Regions from separate parts of the Homo sapiens genome. Here region 2 is linked to region 1. Evidence: fine-mapped expression QTL. A gene starts in region 1. The other region holds a variant in brackets. All regions are shown on one strand. Distances are between the middles of the regions. Region 1 holds the start of SET (SET nuclear proto-oncogene). Region 2 holds the start of ZDHHC12 (zDHHC palmitoyltransferase 12).

Region 1 (8,060 bases):
ACAACTCTGGCCTGAATCTCTGCCACCTCCTCATCTTGGCTTCCAGCTTCCTCCTCCTCCCCTTCAGCCTGAGCATAGCCAATCACGTGGCCCACTCCCCGGCTTAAACCCCTCCCTTGCCTCCCCGCGTCCTCCAGGTGCTCAGAAACTTCTCTGGCCCGCCAACCCGGTCCCCGCCGACCTCTCCTGGTTCACACTTCTGAGACTCCCCACCTGGAGGCCTCCCTCAAGGTGGTACCCTTCACCTTGACCTCTTGGGACTCTACCCTCTGATCTCGGGGCCTAGACACCCACTTGCCCTTTCCTCTCCTTACCTGTGCACCACCTCCAGCTCTCTGCTGGAAAGTCACTTCCTGTGGGCAATCTGTGAGCCCCAACACTTGGGAGTTAGGAGTCCCAGAGTCATGCTGCCTCACCCTCTTGTCATTACATTGTAACCAGCAGTTTCATGCCTGCCCTTCCCCCCATTAAACTTAGAGGTGAGGGCTGCATTTTGGGAGACGTAGCTGGAGCTGGATAGAGAGTTGACTGTTCTGGTGACTAGGTCTGGCTCATAGGGGAGGGTTGTGGTGGAGCCTTCCTGGGCTGGGTGTGGATAGGCCCAGGGCCTGCAAGGAAACGGGAAGCTTTGATTGGCTGAGGGCAGGCAACTCTTATGGAAGAAGCACTGAGGAGGAGTCCTACCTCAGGGCTCAGTGTGGACCTGTTGGCACTTTTACTGGGTCTCAGTCCCTTTTCCTCCACATGGGATGCAGAGACCTCCTGCCCAGCTTGAAACCTACCTTGCTGGGTGAGCCACATAAAACAACTTGTGCTTGTTTTCTCTTCTATAAAATGGGATCCACAGTACTGATCTCCAGGCTTGCTGTGAGTCTGAAATCTAAGGGGAGCACTAGACAGCGCCTAGCACATCATCAGTGCTCTAGAGTGCATTTGTGCGCAGCAAAATGTGGGTGAGTCTTCCTAGTTTCCTTCCAGTGAGCTTCCTGGGAGCATTAACAGGACTGGAAGGGATGGAAAGGTGTGAGGGGGTTCATCTAAACCCAAAGAACAGCTCCTGCTGCTTAGTAGGCACTGATGGCATGCCAGAAGCTGTGCCAAGCACTTCTCTATCCTCACAGCCGTATGCTGTGGACATCCCAATTTTACAGATCAGAACAGGAGGCTCAAAGAGATGTGTATGTGTCTGTGGCGGGGGAGATGTTCCAGGCTCTGGAGATTTTTTGGTCTGTGCTTGGGACACTGCAGCACTGTGGGGGAATGCCAGCCTCTCTCTGTTCCAGTCTTTCTGGCGGTGGGGTTCTGTCCTCTTCAAAGGGAGCCGGGGGCCGGGCGCGGTGGCTGACGCCTGTAATCCCAGCACTTTGGGAGGCCGAGGTGGGCAGATCACCTGAGGTCAGAAGTTCAAGACCAGCCTGGCCAACATGGCTAAACCCCATCTCTACCAAAGACAGTTAGCCAGGCGTGACGATGCATGCCTGTAATCCCAGCTACTTGGGGGGCTAAGGCAGGAGAATTGCTTGAACTCCGGAGGCGGAGGTTGCAATGAGCCGAGTTCGTGCCATTGCACTCCAGCCTGGGCGACAAGAACAACAACAACAACAACAAAAAAAAAAACAACCAGAGGGGCCAGGAGGAGAGGAGAGAGGCAAGGGAGGAATTCTGAGTGAGGGGAGAGGCCAAGAAGAGAGAATGCAGAGCTTCTGGTGTTGGAGACGGGGAGAGAGCAGAGTCCTAAGAGTGGGTGAATAACCTCTCAGTGTGCCCCCGGCTCGCCTGTGTTTACTCACACCCCTGGCCCTTTTGCTTTCTCTTTCTCTTCAACTTCCTAGTGTGCTCATATTTATCTTGAGAAGCACTGTGTGGGGAAGGGCAGGAAAAGAGGGGCAGGGAGGTGGCAGGGAGGGTTGGGAGGCCAGAAAGGGAACCTGAAAGCCCACTCCCCCATCAGAAGGCATTACAGGGTTCCCTGGGACCCCTGCAGGTGCTTGGGAAACAGGCAGATAAGGCACTTAGGAGACATTGTGGGTCAGGAGTGACCCTATGGGTCAGGCTTTGAGGATGGAAGCAGCCAGCCCTTGGCATAGTGTTCTCAGACAGACTCAGCCCAGGAGCGGGTCGTGAAATCAATTTGGTGGGGTGTGACCTGCATTTTAAATAGGAAATTAGAATCACATCACCCTTGGTAAGGGTAAGTTTTGGTTTGTGTGTGCTAGGTCATGATGTCAAAAGTACTTCTGACTGTTGGTCACATTAAAAAAACTGAGGCAGGGTGCGATGGCTAACTCTTGTAATCCCAGAGCTCTGGAAGGCTGAGGCTGAAGGATGGTTTGAGCTCAGGAGTTTGAGACCAGCCTGGGCAACATGGTGATACCTCCTCTCTACAAAAGATAAAAACAAAATTAGCCAGGCAAGGTGGCAGTGGTGCTTGCCTGTGGTCCCAGCTACTCAGAAGGCTGAGGTGTAAGAATCCCCAGAGCCCAGGAGGTCAAGGCTGCAGTGAGCCATGGTTCTGGGCGACAGAGAGAGACCCTGTCTCATAATAATAACAACAATAAAAATAGAAAAACTGTTTTAAGGTAAGGGCTTTGTCAATTGCTACTTGGTTTAGAATCTTGGTTCTGTCACTTGCAACAAAGTTTAGTTTATGCTAGGCACAGTGGGTGGCTCATGCCTGTAGTCCCAGCACTTTGGGAGGCCGAGGTGGGCAGATCACCTGAGGTCGGGAGTTCGAGACCAGCCTGGCCAACATGGTGAAACCCCGTCTCTACTAAAAAATACAAAAATTAGCTTGGCATGGTAGTGGGCGCCTGTAATCCCAGATACTCGGGAGGCTAAGACACTCACCGTGCACTGTCTTGAACATGAAAGATGCTGCTTGAGCTTTAAGAGCTGATAGTGGGCCGAGCTCAGTGGCTCATGCCTGTAATCTCAGCACTTTGGGAGGCAGAGGCAGGTGGATCACCTGAGGTCAGGAGTTTGAGACCAGTCTGGCCAACATGGTGAAAACCTGTCTCTACCAAAAAATACAAAAATTAGCAGGGCGTGGTGACTCACATCTGTAATCCTAGCAACTCAGGATGCTGAGGCAGGAGAATCACTTGAACCCGGGAGGCGGAGGTTGCAGTGAGCTGAGATGGCACCACTGCACTCCAGCCTGGAAGACAGAATGAGACTTGGTCCCCTCCCCCACCAAAAAAAAAAAAAAAAAAAAAGAGCCAATGGTAAAGTGTGAGTTCTGGAAGGCAGAATTCCAACCCCAAGTTCTGGTTAAAAATGTCCAAAGAGAGATTTCAGGTATTTTTTTGTTTTTGTTTTAGAGATAGGGTCTTGCTCTGTCACTCAGGCTTCAGTGCAGTGGCTGCATTGGGGCTCATTGAAGCCTGGAATTCCTGGGCCCAAGCGATCCTCCTGCCTTGGCCTCCCAAAGTGTTGGGATAACAGGAGTGAGCTATTGCATGGCCAGGATTTGAAATTGGCCAGCGTATCACTAAAATCAACAAATGGTACTGGCCGGGCGCAGTGGCTCCCGCCTGTAATCCCAGCACTTTGGGAGGACGAGGTGAGTGGATCACCCCAGGTCAGTAGACCAGCCTGGCCAAGGTGGTGAAACTCCATCTCTACTAAAAATACAAAAATTAGCCGGGCATGGTGGCACGTGCCTGTAGCCCCAGCTACTCGGGAGGCCGAGGCAGGAGAATTGCTTGAACCCGAGAGGCAGAGCTTGCAGTGAGCCAAGATTGCGCCACTGCACTCCAGCCTGGGGGACAGAGCAAGACTCCCGTCTCAAAACAAACAAACAAATGCTACTAATCAGGGTTTTTCTGGCTTTTTATGGTTCATGTCTTGGGGTGCTGGAGGGACAGAATGTGGGGCATCCGCATTACTTGAAAAGTATTATTTAAACAAAATGCTTTGGCCCTCCTTAGTGGTTCAGAACTTTGCCTCTCAAGTAGAACTTGTTGGCCCCTTTCATCTCTATGAACAGAACACCGCCTATCGCTTGGGGCTGTTGTGAGGCCTCGGTGAGATAACCGTGCCATGCGCTGCTGAAACTGGCACTTAACGCTCAGTATGATTCTTGCGGGCGCTGGGCACCGCGGACTAATGTGGTACCTCCCTGCCTTCACAGGACTTCGAGTTTAATGTGGCTTCAGTGTCGTAACCTTTATCATTTCATAACAGAAACGGGTTCAGAGAGGAAGGGTGACTTGCTCAAGGGTACAAGCTTGCTGGGCAGGGCTTGGACTAAAACCCAGGAATGGCCCTGCGCGCGGATTACACAGCCTGGGGCTTCGCACACGAGCCCGAGTTTGAGTCCGATCGGCAGTTCCCCATCTGGCATCCAGAATGGGGTGCCCCCTGCTTTCTCCACGAAGTGGAAGGCGCCGAGAGGCCGGGCGGAATTCGGGGCCCCCATACGAGGCCGGGCCTGCACTTTCGGGGTGGTGGGCGCCCCGCTCCCGGTGCCCCGCGGAGCAGGGAAGCCGCTCGCTCACCACGTGACGCGCCGGCCGGGGGCACCCGCGCCTCCGTGCGACGCCCCGCCCACCGGCCTGCCGCGCGCCAGTGTCCTGGGTCGGGCCGGAGAGGGGAGAGCGGGGGAGGGGACGCGGCGCGGGGGGCGGCCGTGCGTCGCCGCGCGCCTTCCTCCCACCTCTCGCCGGGCCCTGTGTCTCCGCGCCGCGACTCCGCCCCCTCATCCCGCCGCCCAGGCCAATGGCGCCGCGGCGCGAGCCTCCCCGGCCGGAGGCGGAGCATCCGCGCGGGGCCTGGCGCGCCTGCGCCCTGCGCCCGCCCCTCGCCGTAGGAGGAGGTGGAGGAGGAGGCGGCTCGGGAGAGCGAGCAGCGAGCTGGCTGGATCGCCGAGCGCGAGTGAGGGAGCCGAGCCGCCCGCCGCCGCCGCCTCCGCCTCCCCTCCGCGAACAGGAGCCCGGGCCGGGGCCCGGCACGCCGCCCCAGCCCGTCCCTCGGCGTCAGGCCGCGAGGGTAGCGCGCGCGAGCGAGCGAGGGGGAGGGAGAGCGAGCGAGCGCCGGGAGGAGGCGGCCGGACCGAGCGGGCGCCCGCGCGTGTGGCGTGAGGGGAAGCCGCTTGCCCGCCCCCTTCGCCTTCCCTTCTCTCCCCCTCCCCGCTCCCCCCCCGACCGCGGAGCAGCACCATGTCGGCGCCGGCGGCCAAAGTCAGTAAAAAGGAGCTCAACTCCAACCACGACGGGGCCGACGAGACCTCAGGTGAGAGCAGCGAGCCCGGGGGCCGGCCCGCGCCGCCATCTTCGCCGCCCGCCCCGGCCCGCAGGCCGCCGGCGGGGCCCGGGGCGCGCGCGGGGGGCGCCGGGCGGGGGGGCGCGGCGCGGCCGGGCGGGGGCCCGCGGACTCGGCGCCCTTTTTTGTGCGCGGCTGGGCTGGGGGCCTGGGTGGCCCGCGCCGCGGCGGCCGCGCTGCGAGGCGGGGGCGCTGCGGCCTGCTCGGCGCGGGCGGAGGAGACCCCCCCTTCCTCTCCCCCCTCCCTCGCTCTCCTCCCCCTCCCTCCCTCCCGAGAAGCCTCTCTTTATTGTGCTCCGCCATGATGCCTCGCTCCCATCAGCCGCCGCCGCCGCCACATGGTGCGGCCGGACGCGGCCCCGCGCCCGACCTCCCGCGCGGTTCCGCTTCGCGCCCGGCCCGCGGCGGCGCCCCCGGCACCCCCGCCCAGAGGCTGGCCCCGGCGGGGCTTCTGCCTGGAGCTCGGGTGGGGTGGGGGCGCGGGGAACACGCGGGCGGCCGCGCGCTGGGCCTTGGCCGGCCGGGAGGATGCTCTGGCCAGCCCGGGCGCACTCCCCACGTGGGGCGGCCGCCCCGTCGCGCCAGCGTGCGGAGAAACCTGGCGCCGCGACCAGTGTATCGGGGGTCTTGGAAATGGCTAAGAAAGCTGGCCTCTGCCTAGGAGGCTCTCGGCAGGGGGGCTGCCAATCCGGGATGGTTACCGGAAATGAACCGCGCGATCTGGCCCTTTCACACCCACTTAGCTTTGTAGGGGGTTTGTAGTCTTTACAGGACAAAAGGGCACCTATTCCAGAGCACACCCCCTTTTCTTCCTCTCCCTTCTGTGCCTCACTGCTTTCCGATCTCATAGTTGCTCCCAGTAAGTGCTCCAAAGTCGTGTGGGGCCGCATCTGAGGTCTGCCCGCCTGAATTGGGTTGGAGGGGTTCATGTTCTGAGAAGGCGAAGGCCAGGGTGTAGGATGGTGCCCCGTGACTTTCCAGTCTTTGTAGGCGTGCCTGGTATCTTCATCGTAATAGCAGAGTCGTCAACTTTCTATGAAAGGTGGTTTTACCTTGATAGGTGGTAGTGGTGGCCTAATTTGTATCATTGTCATGGGTTTAGTTTCCATATTCTAGTTAGCAGCTGCTACTGTTCTCTTGCAAGTGTATAATGTGAAATAATAAACGTGAAGACTTCTGAATAAGGTTATTCTGTGTCTTTCATAGTAGAAACCTTAATGATCGGTCTGTTGTAGTGAAACTCTTTAAAAAGGCGCTATAGAAAACCAATTTCTGAGTAAACCAGCAGACAGCATGACTTGTAAATGGTCTTTTAATTAATTAAAAAGAAATTAGTCAGCTACAAGCATGAACATGTGGAACGCTTGCCTTTGTACTAGGCGTTTTTGTTTTTGTTTTAATGGCTTTTGGAATATTATAGTATTAACATCTGGAAAACTAGGTAAATTTATCTTAGAATTAAGTTTTTTGCTCCTTTTTTGCAGAAAAAGAACAGCAAGAAGCGATTGAACACATTGATGAAGTACAAAATGAAATAGACAGGTAACATTTTTCTTAATATACTTCGGAGAAATTTTCTGAGATGTGTCTAATAGCCCGGTAATTATCGAAGCTATGGTCAAATCTATCCACTGTCAAAGGGGAAATGATTCTAACTTGGTTGGAAATACTTATGTAGATTCAGTGTTTTTTGGTGAAGTGATTGTACAGAAGTTTTTGAAAGTGCATTGACCTTACAAGGTTTGGGTTTGCTTTCAAAGACTGAAAATTGTCTGAATTGCAGTGTAGGTCTTCTGATGGTTTAGCAGTGTGGCATCAGTGGTTGCTCTAACTTGCCTTACAACTTTGTTATGGATTAGCCACTTTATTTAGAAATCGCGCTTGAGGGAAACAATTGAAATTGGACTGGAAATGGAGTGGGCGAAGTAAATACACACGTTACCAGAGTGTTGAGTTTGGGCACTCTTAACAGTCATTATTACTCAGTGTTTATTGATAAATCAGACAAAATTGCCATCTTAGTTTTGAGTGTCTAAATTAGGTGATAATGGTTATTATAATTTGGTTATTTTGCATGACTCAAGCTAGTAAGTAAATACACTCTGTAATCTCAACCAATTTTTTAATTTGTTAAATACTATCATTGTCAACATCTCTTTTCATTTGCTTCAGACTTAATGAACAAGCCAGTGAGGAGATTTTGAAAGTAGAACAGAAATATAACAAACTCCGCCAACCATTTTTTCAGAAGAGGTCAGAATTGATCGCCAAAATCCCAAATTTTTGGGTAACAACATTTGTCAACCATCCACAAGGTATGTTTTGGACAGGGCATTGTTAAAGGATAAACAGTGTTTGTTAGAATGGAGGAAGCTTGGTGAAGACTTAGTCCAGCATGCTGGGTTGCGTGCAACAAAGACAGGCTGGGTGCGGTGGCGCACCTGTAATCCCAGCACTTTGGGAGGCCGAGGTGGGTGGATCACTTGAGGTCAGGGGTTCGAAACCAGCTTGGCCAACAGGTTGAAACCCCGTCTCTACTAAAAATACAAAAAAAATTAGCTGGGCGTGGTGGCGCGCGCTTGTAATCCCAGCTACTCGCTACTTGGGAGGCTGAGGCAGGAGAATCGCTTGAACCCAGGAGGGGGAGGTTGCAGTGAGCCGAGATTGTGCGCTTTTGCATTCCAGCCTGGGCGACAAGAGTGAGACTGTTTCAAAAAAAAAAAAAAAAAAAAAAAAACCTCAAAGACGGGAAAAGATATACAGCTACTGCTTTCTATTCTGTTTAGGAGAAGCTATAT
Region 2 (11,843 bases), 36 kb after region 1:
GATGCTTGTCCCAGTCTCACTCATCTCTGACTCTGGCCGGGACATCCGGGATCCCCCCGCTATGGCCATCCTGGTGCCTCCCTGCCCTGCCTCCCTGGTGTGTGTCTTGGGCCTGAGTTCTCCCATAACCACCCCTGCAGCTTCTACGTGGCTTGTGTTGTCCTGGGGCTGCAGTTCTTACACGAGAAGAAGATCATTTACAGGTGACTTTTGTCCCAGGGATGCACGGGGGTAGGGGTGGGGGTGGGGGTGGAGTGGGTAAGGACAGATGCTGCCTCCGCCTGCCTGGGCTGCTCCAGGGGCCGTTACTGTTCCCTGGGTCTAAGCCCCACTCAGTCCCTTTGATCTGCACCCTTGCCCTCAGGGACCTGAAGTTGGATAACCTTCTGCTGGATGCCCAGGGATTCCTGAAGATCGCAGACTTTGGACTCTGCAAGGAAGGTGGGGGCCGCCCATTGGGATCCATATCTCCAGCCTTGTTTACCCACCCTGGCCAATAGGATGATGGGCACATGGCATGTCCCAGGAAATCTCCTCACCTGCGGATGCCCTGGTTCCACCACCCCAGACCTCATTCCAGGGGACAGCTGGGCACACTGGCCCTTTCTTCCTAGTCCTAGAGGCTCGTAGCCCCAGCCTGCACCTGGCCCAAGGGAGAGCCTGTGGTCAGGGATGGGAGAGGAGACTGAGTTCTGCCTTCTGTTTTTTTTTTGGTTTGTTTTTTTTTTTGAGACGGAGTCTTGCTGTGCCGCCCAGGATGCAATGCAGTGGTGCAGTCTCGGCTCACTGCAGCCTCCACCTACTGGGTTCAAGCGATTCTCTTGCCTCAGCAGCCCAAGTAGCTGGGACTACAAGCGAGCACCACCACACCTGGCTAATTTTTGTATTTTTTTAGTAGAGACGGGGTTTCACTGTGTTAGCGAGGATGGTCTCGATCTCCTGACCTCATGATCCACCCACCTTGGCCGCCCAAAGTGCTGGGATTACAGGCGTGAGCCACTGCGCCCGGCTTCTTTTTTTTTTGAGATGGAGTCTTGCCCTGTTGCCCAGGCTGGAGTGCAATGGCGCAATCTCGGCTCACTGCAACCTCTGCCTCCAAGGTTCAAGAGATTCTCCTGCCTCAGCCTCCCGAGTACCTGCGATTACAGGCACATGCCACCACACCCAGCTTATTTTTTGTATTTTTAGTAGAGACGGGGTTTCACCATGTTGGCCAGGCTGGTCTCGAACTCCTGACCTCATGATCTGCCCACCTCGGCCTCCCAAAGTGCTGGGATTACAGGTGTGAGCCACCGCACCCAGCCGAGTTCTGCCTTCTGTGACCTTAGCCTGTGAGCTTGGCTCTGCATGCAGTCAAATGGCGTCATAACCATTCCCACTTCCTTGGGTACAGGGCAGGGCTTGGCACAGGCTCAGCTCCCTGGCATCATAAGGCTTGGCTATTGAAGTTATTGTGAATAGGCCACACCAAGCAGCTATTGGTGTGCCTGTTGGTTTGCAGGGATCGGCTTCGGGGACCGGACTAGCACCTTCTGTGGCACCCCGGAGTTCCTGGCTCCCGAGGTGCTGACCCAGGAGGCATACACACGGGCTGTGGACTGGTGGGGGCTGGGTGTGCTGCTCTACGAGATGCTGGTGGGTGAGGTGAGTGCTGGAGCCTGTTTCCTGGGCCTCTGGGTGGGGGTGGGGTGGCCCGTGCATCCTGCTGAGCCCCCATCTCCACAGTGCCCGTTCCCAGGGGACACAGAGGAAGAGGTGTTTGACTGCATCGTCAACATGGACGCCCCCTACCCCGGCTTTCTGTCGGTGCAAGGGCTTGAGTTCATTCAGAAGGTAAGCACTGCGGGGTCTGGGGCTGGGCTGGATGGCCGCTCAAGGCCCATGTGCCCTCTGCCGTGGGACAGCAGACCCCCTGCCACCCATCCTTAGAGCGCTCTGGGCCAGCGTGCTTGGGGCCTGTGGATGATGGCAGTGCCTGGGGCTGAATGCCCTAAGTGAGCGCCTGTCCTATTGCCCAGCTCCTCCAGAAGTGCCCGGAGAAGCGCCTCGGGGCAGGTGAGCAGGATGCCGAGGAGATCAAGGTCCAGCCATTCTTCAGGGTGAGCGGCTGGGGTGGCGGTGGTCCCCTGTGCCTGGCAGGGTAGGTGGCATGGAGTGACTCCTGGAGCTGCTGTTCCTGCCGTCTCAGGCGCCTCTCCTTTGCCCTCAGACCACCAACTGGCAAGCCCTGCTCGCCCGCACCATCCAGCCCCCCTTCGTGCCTACCCTGTGTGGCCCTGCGGACCTGCGCTACTTTGAGGGCGAGTTCACAGGGCTGCCGCCTGCCCTGACCCCACCTGCACCCCACAGCCTCCTCACTGCCCGCCAACAGGCCGCCTTCCGGGACTTCGACTTTGTGTCAGAGCGATTCCTGGAACCCTGAGGGCATCTCCTGGCACCTCTGTCCCCTTCCCCCACAGACTGTTAGAGCCTCTGCTCGTTCACCCGTGCGCCCTGCCTGGAGGTCCAGGCCTTGCTGGGTACTTCTGAGCCCTTGGGATTCAAAGTGGCAGCCATGGGGCCACTGTTGTGGGCTTTGCTCAGTGTCACTGGGCAAAGTGTGTCCCTTCCCCCTCCAGCTCGCCCTCTTCTACCTCCCAGCGAGACCTGGCCCAGAAAGGGTGCCGCAGCAAGGAGTGATATGGTTTGTCTTTTTAAGACTGGACTTGCTTTATATTAAATTTGTAAAAGTGTGCACTGGCAGCAGCCTGGGCGGGGCTGGGGTGGAGCCCGGGGTCTGCTTGGGCCTGAGCCACCCACAGGTCCTTTTCTTCCCCTTCTTCCTTGGAAGGCAGAACTGCCCACCAAGGCAGGGATCTGTCTGACTTGAAGCTCCGTTCTGGGGTCTGGGAGGCGTGGGCAGGAGTGAGGGCCCCAGGCCCTCTGAGCGCTCACCCCAGCTGGGGACAGGCCCCGTGGTTTTCAGGCACAAGACGGTAGCCCGGCCTCCAGCAACCCTAAACAGCTGGGCTGCTGCCCTCTTCCTCCTCCTCAGCCCAGAGGGTCTCCCAGGACCCTGAGGGCCATCCACAGAAGAAGTGGGCCAGGTTGCGGGTCAGGCCTCGGTCGAAGGGGTTGCTGGGGCGCTGGCGGAGATAGGCGATGCGGTGTGAGGAGATGAATTCCCAGGTGGTGGTGTTGCTGGCCACCAGGTAGAGGTGCGAGACGAGGAGCAGGCTGGCCACCAACGAGAAGAGGGACAGCAGCAGGAAGGTGGCGAACAGGAGCCCGCTGGACCGCAACCACTGACCCCAGGGCTGGAAGAACCGGAGGCCTGACCTGCGGTGCAGGGGACAGGGGCCTGGTGCTGGGGGAGGGCAGGGGAGCCCTTCCCTCCCCATGCCGGGTCCCTGGGAGTCCTGGCTCTGTCCACCCCTGTGGGAGCATTCATCCCACCCTCCCTCTACACCCGGGCAGCAGCACCCACCATGCCAGGTACAGGCCCCACAGAAGCACCACCAGCTGCAGCGCCAGGTAGACCACAAAGAGTGGGTGGTTGCGCTCTCCCACACAGTTCTCCATCCAGGGGCAGTGGTGGTCGTAGCGGCGGACGCAACGGCGGCACTCACGGCAGTGCCGAGCCCTCAGGGGCTGCTGTGGGCATGGAGGAGAGTGGAGGCTCAGTGCCAGCCCTGCTGTGGGCCCACCACTGAGGGAAGGAATCAGGGCCTGATTCTGGAAGGCCTTCTTGGAGGAGGGGCGAGGCCCAGGCAGTGGGGCAGGAGGAGGTCGAGGAGTCTCAGCTTTGGCCCAACCTCTCCCACGGGTGTCCGTGCATCACTCACCAGCACCAGGCAGTATCTGCAGCGCCGAAGAGGGATGGCTGGAGGAACCATGGCTGTCTGCTCCTCTTTGAGCTCCTCCTGGAATGAGGGGTGGGGTGTAAGACAGGGTCCCCTTGGGAGACAGATGGCATTGGCGGGCAGCTCCCCTAGGGGCCGGCTTAGCTCTGGGTATGGAGTTTGGGACCCATCCCATGCAGAATGGAGGTGTGGGGTATGGCGGAGCACCCTGGACTGAGGGCGGCTGTGTATGTTTGCAAGTCTCTTCCTTCTCTGGGGCCCAGCAGTTTCCTCACTACTGTAGATGGGGCTCTAGGGGTGGCAAGAGGAGTCACTGAACTGCTCCCACAAGAGCCTGCAGCACAGAGCCTGGCATGGAGACTGGTGCTGGTTGTTAGGTCCCTGTTGGTGAGAGTAGGGGCCCCTGGTTACCTGAGGCTGGGGCTGCACATTCACGTAGCCAGGGTCCATGAGTGACACAGCGAGGTAGAGCAGCAGGGAGCCCAGCACCAGGAGCAGGAAGGTGAGGGGCAGGAGCAGCTCCCCCTGCTCCTCCCATTGCCGCAGCTCTGGAGAGGCCGGAGAGCACAGTGAGGCTGGGCCGGGTAGAACAGGAGTGGGTGGGGTTGGGGTGCAGTTGGAGGTGGGGAAGTGTGTTCCTGGCTGAGCAAAGGCCTGGAGATGTTGGTTCCATGAGTGGCTGTGTGTGGCCAGCAGTTCATCTGCACTTTTATCTGGAGGGTCAGAGGGAACCATGGAAGGTTATAGAGCCAGATCTGTTTTGGAAAACCTCATTGCTAAAGAAATGGATCAGGGGAAGCCTGGGGGCAGAGAATCTGGCCAGGAGGAAGAAGAGAGTCGCTACAAAGGCCTGGCAGGAAGTGAGGGAGGAAGGAATGGACAGGGGGCTGCTGGGTCAAGGGAGCCAGACCTGACTGGATGTGGGAGAGAGGGAAGAGGGGTCCAGCGTCTCTGGCTCTGCAATGGTGAGAGACTGGTTAGGTCTGAAATGCCTGAGAGAGATACAGTGGGAAGGGTGCAGCTGGCAGGCTCAGATGCTGCAGAGGGGCATACGGAAGGGTCCAGCAGGCTTCAGCCCAGGGAGGTGACAGGATTTTGGGGAGGTAGGGTGCAGGGCAAGGAGTGAGGGGGCATGAGACCACCAGACAGCAGAGTGTAGACAAATCCTGTGTCCCTTGGTTGTAAGGGGGAGCAGAGAAGAAAGGGTGGGTTTTGAGGGGGGTTTTCTGATACGGAGACCTGAGCAAGTTTTTAGGCTAAAGGGTGAAGGTGGTGGAGGAGGTCTGTCTTGGGAGGAAAGCCAGAAGGGGCCCCAGTCCAGAAACTGAGGCTGGACCGCCATGGAAGGAGGGCTGGGGTCTGCTGTGGGGGACAGTGGGGGAGGCTGCCTGTGGCAGGTGAGGCGCTGGGTAGGGGGCTACTAAGAGGAATGAGGGAAATGGAGGTGGGTGGGTGGGTGAATCTGTGGGAAGATGGGAGACAGGCCGCACCCCATGGAGTGTTCTCTGGCCTGAGGGTTTGCCTGGACTTGGGCAGCTAGTGGCCATGGGGGTGTGGGGGGTGTGGGTGTGGGCAGAATGCCAATCTTTGCATCTAGTTGAGCCTCCTAATCGTATGGATAGGAAGATTTGGGGTCAGTTCCTGGGAAGGATCATGTGGGTCCCAGGATCAGGGGACATGGGGCTCAAGTCGGTCCTTGGATCTGGTGGGCACCGGCTGGGTCCTGGGATGGACAGGGCATTTGGCAATGATCAGGAAGATGCTGGGATTAATTAGGGATCAACGGGGTATCAGACAGAGAGCAGGTGGCTCTTGGAATGATAGATGGGGAGAGGGCTTCAGGAGCTGGTGGAGATCGGGCCAATCCCAGGATCTCCAGGGATTAGGCGGGAGACCCAGTGTGACCAGAACGTCTGGGGAAGTACGCGGGATCGGGTGGGTCCGGGGTCGCTCGGGGTCCGGCTCACCGGTATCGTGCAGGAAGAGCACCAGCGTGATTCCCCAGGTCAGCACGGTGTG[C/G]CCGGTCCGCACCAGGACCCCAGGGCTGAGGAGCGCCCAGGGCGCCATCGCCTCGGCCCGGGGCCCCACCCGGAAGAAGCGCCCAGAGGGGCGGGCCCTCCGAGGGAGGGGAACGCCGCCGCCCGGGGACTGGTGGATCTAGGCGTTGGGCGGGGCCGGACTGGGTCAGGGAGGCTGCCTATTGGATGGCATCTGCGGCCGAATGGACCCTCAAGCCAACAGGTGCCTGAAGAGGCTGAGGGTGGGGCCGGCGCGCGCGCAGCTGGTAACTCCCTCAACTCCAGCCCCACCCGCCAGGTAACTTTTGAAAGCGCCGGAGCGCGCGCGCACCTCCCCCGCGCTCCGCTGTGCCCTCCCCCGCGTTCCCCTGTGCCCGCCCTCGCAGCCTCGCGCATGCGCGTAGCTCCCTGGGCGCTTCGAAGATCCAGCGGCTTGCTGTGAGTCCGGGAGGCAAAATTGTACCCATTTCAAAGATGTGATGACTAAAGTCTCGAGAGGGCCAAGGCTCGCCCAAGGTTGCTCTGTGGTGACAGCTTTACCTCCTTGCTATGTATTCTCAGATATTGCAAACGGACGAGAGAAAAGTGGAGGTACGTGGTGCACATTCTGACTATGGGTGATCCAACTTAGGCGGGAGTCAGAAATCCCAGCACTGCCCCTTCCTACCTGTGTGACCCTGGGCGAGTTACTGAGCCCCTCTGAGCTGTTTTCTGTCTCTATAAGGGGGATTACAATAGTGTCTTCCTCCTAAGGTGTTTGGGAGGATTAAATAATGGAAGCGCCTTGTCTAGCACGGGACTGTCTTGCCTCTCCTGCTGTGAGCCACCACCTACAGGCGGACTTTCCTCACCGGAGGCTGCAGGCTGTCCTCCTTCCCTGTGTCCCCAGGGCCTTCTCCACTCAGCCCCGCCTTTCCACAGCACCTCCCACTGATACCAGCATCCTCCTCCGCCTCCCTCTGATTGGCCCCATCCCAGCTCCTCCAGGATACTCCTCTGACATCTGTTGTTTTTCTCAGCTCAACATCCTTTTTTTGGTTGGGGAATCGACTTCCCATCCCATGTGATTGGAGGGACTGCCCCTCACCCCATAGGATGGCGAGCGGCAGGCTGTGGGCTTTCGACTCTGCAGAACCAATCACAGGCCTTCCATGAGATTACTGTCTAGATGCTGAGAGGAAGGAGCATTCTTTTGGATCTCAAGCCTAAGGAATGGGATATAAGGCAACTGGGAGCCGTCTTTACGCTGGGCGGAGAGGGCTTACCCTGTCTGTGGCTGGAGAAAATGAGACCAACTTATAAAGACACATAGAGATGGATAAGCAGCACTAAAGGAGGGAGCAAGAGATGGTCTGAACAACATTGTCTGAGCCCTCTAGATCCGGCTGTCCCTGAAGCTGATACTGACTCTGCATCCCCTGGTTGCAAGAGTCAATGAATGCCCACCTTTTTTTTTTTTTTTTTTTTGAGACAGAGCCTCACTCTGTTGCCTAGGCTGGAGTGCAGTGGCGCGATCTGGGCTCACTGCAACCTCCACCTCCCAAGTTCAAGTGATTCTCCTGCCTCAGCCTCCCAAGTAGCTGGGGTTACAGGCACATGCCACCACGCCCAGCTAATTTTTGTATTTTTAGTAGAGACAGGGTTTCACTATGTTGTCCAGGCTGGTCTCGAATTCCTGACTTCAAGTGATCTGCCTAACTCAGCCTCTCAAAGTGCTGGGATTACAGGTGTGAGCCACCATGCCTGGCCCCAATTCCCACCTTTGACTAGCCTGAGTAGATGTTTGAGTTGGGTGTCTGTCATTTGCAGCTAAGTCTTGACTACTGCACTGGGTGCAGGATCTGATGTGCTCAGTGGGGACATCCAGCACATTATCCACTCAGCACATAATTCTGAAGCTTCCGTGGGTTAGGCACTGTGCTAGTATCAAACATCCCAACACTAGTTCAAATAGTAAGGCCAGATTTTAATTAACAATATACTACTGATAGGGCGGAGAGCCCAGTGTGAACCAACTGAAACTTCTGTTTGTGCAGAGGTGACTGATGTTTTTTGTGGTTTTGGTTTTCTGCTTTCTTGAGATGGGGTCTCGCTATGGCCTCAAACTCCTGACCTGAGGCAATCTTCCCCCTCAGCCTCCAGAGTAGCTGGGACTGCAGGCGTGCTCCACCATGTCTGGCTTAAAGGGAGAATGAGGGAGTGGAGGGAAACGGTGAGGGCTTCAGCAGAATAAGGGAAATGAAAAATTCCAAAGGGTTGGTCATGGTAAATGTGATTAGGCAGCTCCGCGTGCTCGCTGGCAATGGTGAAAGTTAGGACTCTGTTCTCCTGCAGAGACTGGGAGACAGAGGCTCTGTCCTTCCTGATATTACATTTCAATAGAATGGCCTTCAGGTCCTTGAAAAAGACACTTCTGAGTTGTAGGAGATACACACTCATCTCAAATGGACAGAGGAAGGATCACAATTGTAAGTTCCCATCCCACCACACTTTTTTTTTTTTTTTTGAGACGGAGTTTCGCTCTTGTTGCCCAGGCTGGAATGCAATGGCGGGCTCTCGGCTCACTGCAACCTCTGCCTCCCAGGTTCAAGCGATTCTCCTGCCTCAGCCTCCCAAGTAGCTGGGATTACAGGCACCCGCCACCATGCCCAGCGAATTTTGTATTTTTAGTAGAGATGGGGATTCTCCATGTTGGTCAGGCTGGGCTCAAACTCCCGACCTCAGATGACCCGCCCGCCTTGGCCTCCCAGAGTGCTGGGATTACAGGCGTGAGCCACTGTGCCCAGCACTTTTTTTTTTTTTTGAGAGGGAGTTTCGTACTGTTTCCCTGGTGTGATCTGAGGCTCACTGCAACCTCCGCCTCCTGGGTTCAAGCAATTCTCCTGCCTTAGCTTCCAAAGTAGCTGGGATTACAGGCACGTGCCACCACGCCTGGCTAATTTTTTAAAAATTCTTAGTAGACACAGGATTTCACCATGTTGGCCAGGGTGGCCTTGAACTCCTTACCTTGTGATCCGCCTGCCTCGGCCTCCCAAAGTGCTGGGATTACAAGTGTGAACCACTGTGCCCGGCCAGAGGTCACATTTCTTAGGGAGACTCAGTAAAATGGCTTTATGGTTTAGACATCAGTCTATTTTGGAGAGGTAGGTCATGTTTGAAGGTGCTGAGCGGCAAAATTAGTTTCTTTTTTTTTTTCTCTCCAACTTTTATTTTAAGTTCAGGGGTACATGTGTAGGATGTGCAGGTTTGTTACATAGGTAAACATGTGCCACTGTGGTTTGCTGCACAGCTCATCCCGTCACCTAGGTTTTTGTTTTTGTTCGTTTGTTTTTGCAATGGAGTCTTGCTCTGTTGCCTGGGCTGGACTGCAATAGCACGATCTCAGCTCACTGTGACCTCTGCCTCCTGGGTTCAAGTGATTCTCCTGCCGCAGCCTCCCGAGTAGCTGGGATTACAGGTGTGCACCACCACACCCAGCTAATTTTTGTATTTTTAGTAGAGACGGGGTTTCACCATTTTGGCCAGGATGGTCTCAAACTCCTGACCTCAAGGGATCCGCCCACCCTGGCCTCCCAAAGTCCTGAGATTACAGGCTGAGCCACTGTACCCAGCCTGGCCACAGGTTTTTAAAAGGAGAGCCCTCCATGTGCCAGGTTTTGTGCTGGGCTACAGCAGAGCCTTGATGTGGCTTGTTGCTCACAGTCCAGTGGGGGAGACGAGACAAGGCAATTTCAGCCCCATGAGATAAGTAGGTGCTGTGATGGGATGAGCAGGAACTAGAGTGTTCCTGACACAGGAAATGGCAAGTATCAGGCCAGCGAGCTAGAGGAGGAGCACCTGGCACATCTGAGGATCTTGTTTTCCCTCCTTTACTGTGGCAACCTTGAGGTAATAAGTCATGTCAGGCCAGGTATGGTGGCATATGCCTGTAATCTCAACACTGTGGGTGGCTGGAGTGGGAGGATTGCTTGAGCCCAGGAATTTGAGACCAACCTGGGCAACACAGTGAGACCCCATTTCTACAAAAAAACAAAAATTAGATGTGCATGGAGGTGCACGTTTGTTGTCCCAGCTACTTGGGAGGCTGAGGTGCAAGGATTGCTTGAGCCCAGGAGGTCGAAGCTGCAATGAGCTGTGATCGTGCCATTGCACTCAGCCTGGGCAACAGTGAGACCTTGTCTGAAAAAAATAAAAAGTAAAGTCACTTCACCTCTCTGAGCCTCAGTGTCCTTGTCTGTGAAATGGATTATTGCCAGGGTTCTGAGGAAGCGGAAGGTACATGAAGCACTTAGCCCGGGGCCTGGGACACAGAATAAGGTTCAGCAGTGTTGGCTGCTGCTGGCAGGCACTGCCCTCATTCCCTCCGAGGCACAGACGACCCACCAGGGTTCTGAGGCAAACCACTTGATGCCCTTCCTGCCCAGGTCCTGTGGGTGGCCAGTGGCAGGGGGCTGTCAGCCAGGGGAGAGAGAGGCCAGGTCCAGGCCCTGCAGGGGGTGGAGAAGAGGGGACCTCGGCTTCACAGAGGCTGTGGGAGGAGTCAGTGCTCAGCTTCCAGAAATGCTTAATTGGGTCCTGATGCCCAGGCTTAAAACCTCACATAAAGGGTAAAATCCACACACTCACGGTGGCCTATAAAGGGTGTGACCGTATCATTTCTTTTTTGTTTTTTGAGACGGAGTCTCGCTCTGTCACCCAGGCTGGAGTGCAGTGGCACCATCTGTGCTCACTGCAAGCTCTGCCTCCTGGGTTCACACCATTCTCCTGTCTCAGCCTCTCAAGTAGCTAGGACTACCGGTGCCGGCCGCCTAGCGCAGCTAATTTTTTTGTATCTTTTAGTAGAGACGGGGTTTCACCATGTTAGCCAGGATGGTCTTGATCGCCTGACCTCGTGATCCACCTCGGCCTCCCAAAGTGCTGGGATTACAGGCGTGAGCCACCGCACCCAGCCCACCATATCATTTCTTATTCCAACCAGGCAGCTCTTAAGGATGACAAGGCACTGTTGATAGACGTGCGGGGACCACAGGTGTCAGCCAGGACGGCCCTGGGCCATGCTAGAGTCTGGGCACCTCACAATTTGGCACCAGCGACTTCCTGGTCCCCTCCCACTCTACCCTTGTTCCTCACGCTGCCAGGGCCACATGGGGCTGCTTCTCTGTCCACCCTGGCGGGACCCTCTGCTGAGGATGCACTTTTCCTCAGCCCCTCGGGCCAGGCCTGGGCAACCTCCTTCTTTTCCCTGGGTTTGGCTCCACTCTGTCCTCTTGTAAGAAGCCTCCCAGACACATGGGGACATCGTGCTGGCTCCTCCCCCTCTCCCCAAAGCACTGTGGCCCAGCGGACTCCAAGCTTCCCTGATCCGCCTGCCCACTCCCATCCACTGGCAGGAGGCACCTCCTCCGCTGCCTTCTCCCTGATGGTGGCACAGAGTTGTAATCTTCTATTTGCCATCTGTCTCCCCCATCAGGCTGAGCCATCTTAGGCAGGCACCCTGTTGGTCTGGTTGCCAGCTGTGTCCTCAGTGGGCACAGGGATGTGAAGAGAACACATAGGAAACAGGTACTCCAGCTCAGTCCCCTGCCACCTGTCCCCAGCCTGCAGCCCTTTAACCCACCAAACGCACCCCTCCCTACCACAGAACTACCTACACTGCAGCCCCCCTGCCAGGGGTGGCTCAAGCCCTGCTCCAGAGCCTGGAAGCCAGGCTAGCAATCCCCTCCACAAAAAAAGACGCTCTGTTTTCCATTTTGCACAAAAATGTATTTCTGTGACTTCCCAAAGTACAGACATTTCCCCAGGCCCCAGGGGGTAAAGCAATGAGGTGTGAAGTCTGCCAGGGTCTGGCCGGGGCCGCTGAGCGTGGGAAGGAAGGGAGCGCCGCATGCAGCCCATCTGCCAAGCTGGGGGAACACAGGGCTGCGCCCACTTCCCAGGGCCGGGAGGGAGAGGCTCCAGGAGAAAAAGGCCAGGTGTCTCTCCC

What was found. PIP is the estimated chance that this variant, and not a neighbour inherited with it, causes the effect.
Region 2: its variant is fine-mapped to the expression of SET in whole blood (TOPMed, PIP above 0.99).

The regions. Positions count from the first base shown.
Region 1 is chr9:128,684,424-128,692,483 of GRCh38, forward strand. It overlaps SET (SET nuclear proto-oncogene), which reads left to right and starts at 4,799. Exons shown (of 8, transcript NM_003011.4): 1 at 4,799-5,232; 2 at 6,747-6,804; 3 at 7,435-7,577. The coding sequence starts at 5,160. It also overlaps a transcript of DYNC2I2 not described here. RefSeq lists enhancers at 221-310, 1,516-1,605, 1,646-1,745, 3,096-3,972 and silencers at 4,259-5,168, 5,549-5,668.
Region 2 is chr9:128,718,185-128,730,027 of GRCh38, forward strand. It overlaps PKN3 (protein kinase N3), which reads left to right. Exons shown (of 22, transcript NM_013355.5): 17 at 141-203; 18 at 365-441; 19 at 1,502-1,644; 20 at 1,726-1,833; 21 at 2,019-2,099; 22 at 2,210-2,732. The coding sequence ends at 2,422. ZDHHC12 (zDHHC palmitoyltransferase 12) reads right to left here and starts at 5,943. Exons shown (of 5, transcript NM_032799.5): 1 at 5,810-5,943; 2 at 4,254-4,390; 3 at 3,825-3,902; 4 at 3,467-3,633; 5 at 2,689-3,318. The coding sequence starts at 5,909. The coding sequence ends at 2,997. It overlaps ZDHHC12-DT (ZDHHC12 divergent transcript), which reads left to right and starts at 6,278. Exons shown (of 2, transcript NR_046240.1): 1 at 6,278-6,451. It overlaps ZER1 (zyg-11 related cell cycle regulator), which reads right to left. Exons shown (of 16, transcript NM_006336.4): 16 at 11,602-11,843. RefSeq lists a silencer at 5,832-6,311 and enhancers at 10,552-11,383, 11,384-11,843. The variant C/G (reference allele first, on the strand shown) is at 5,862.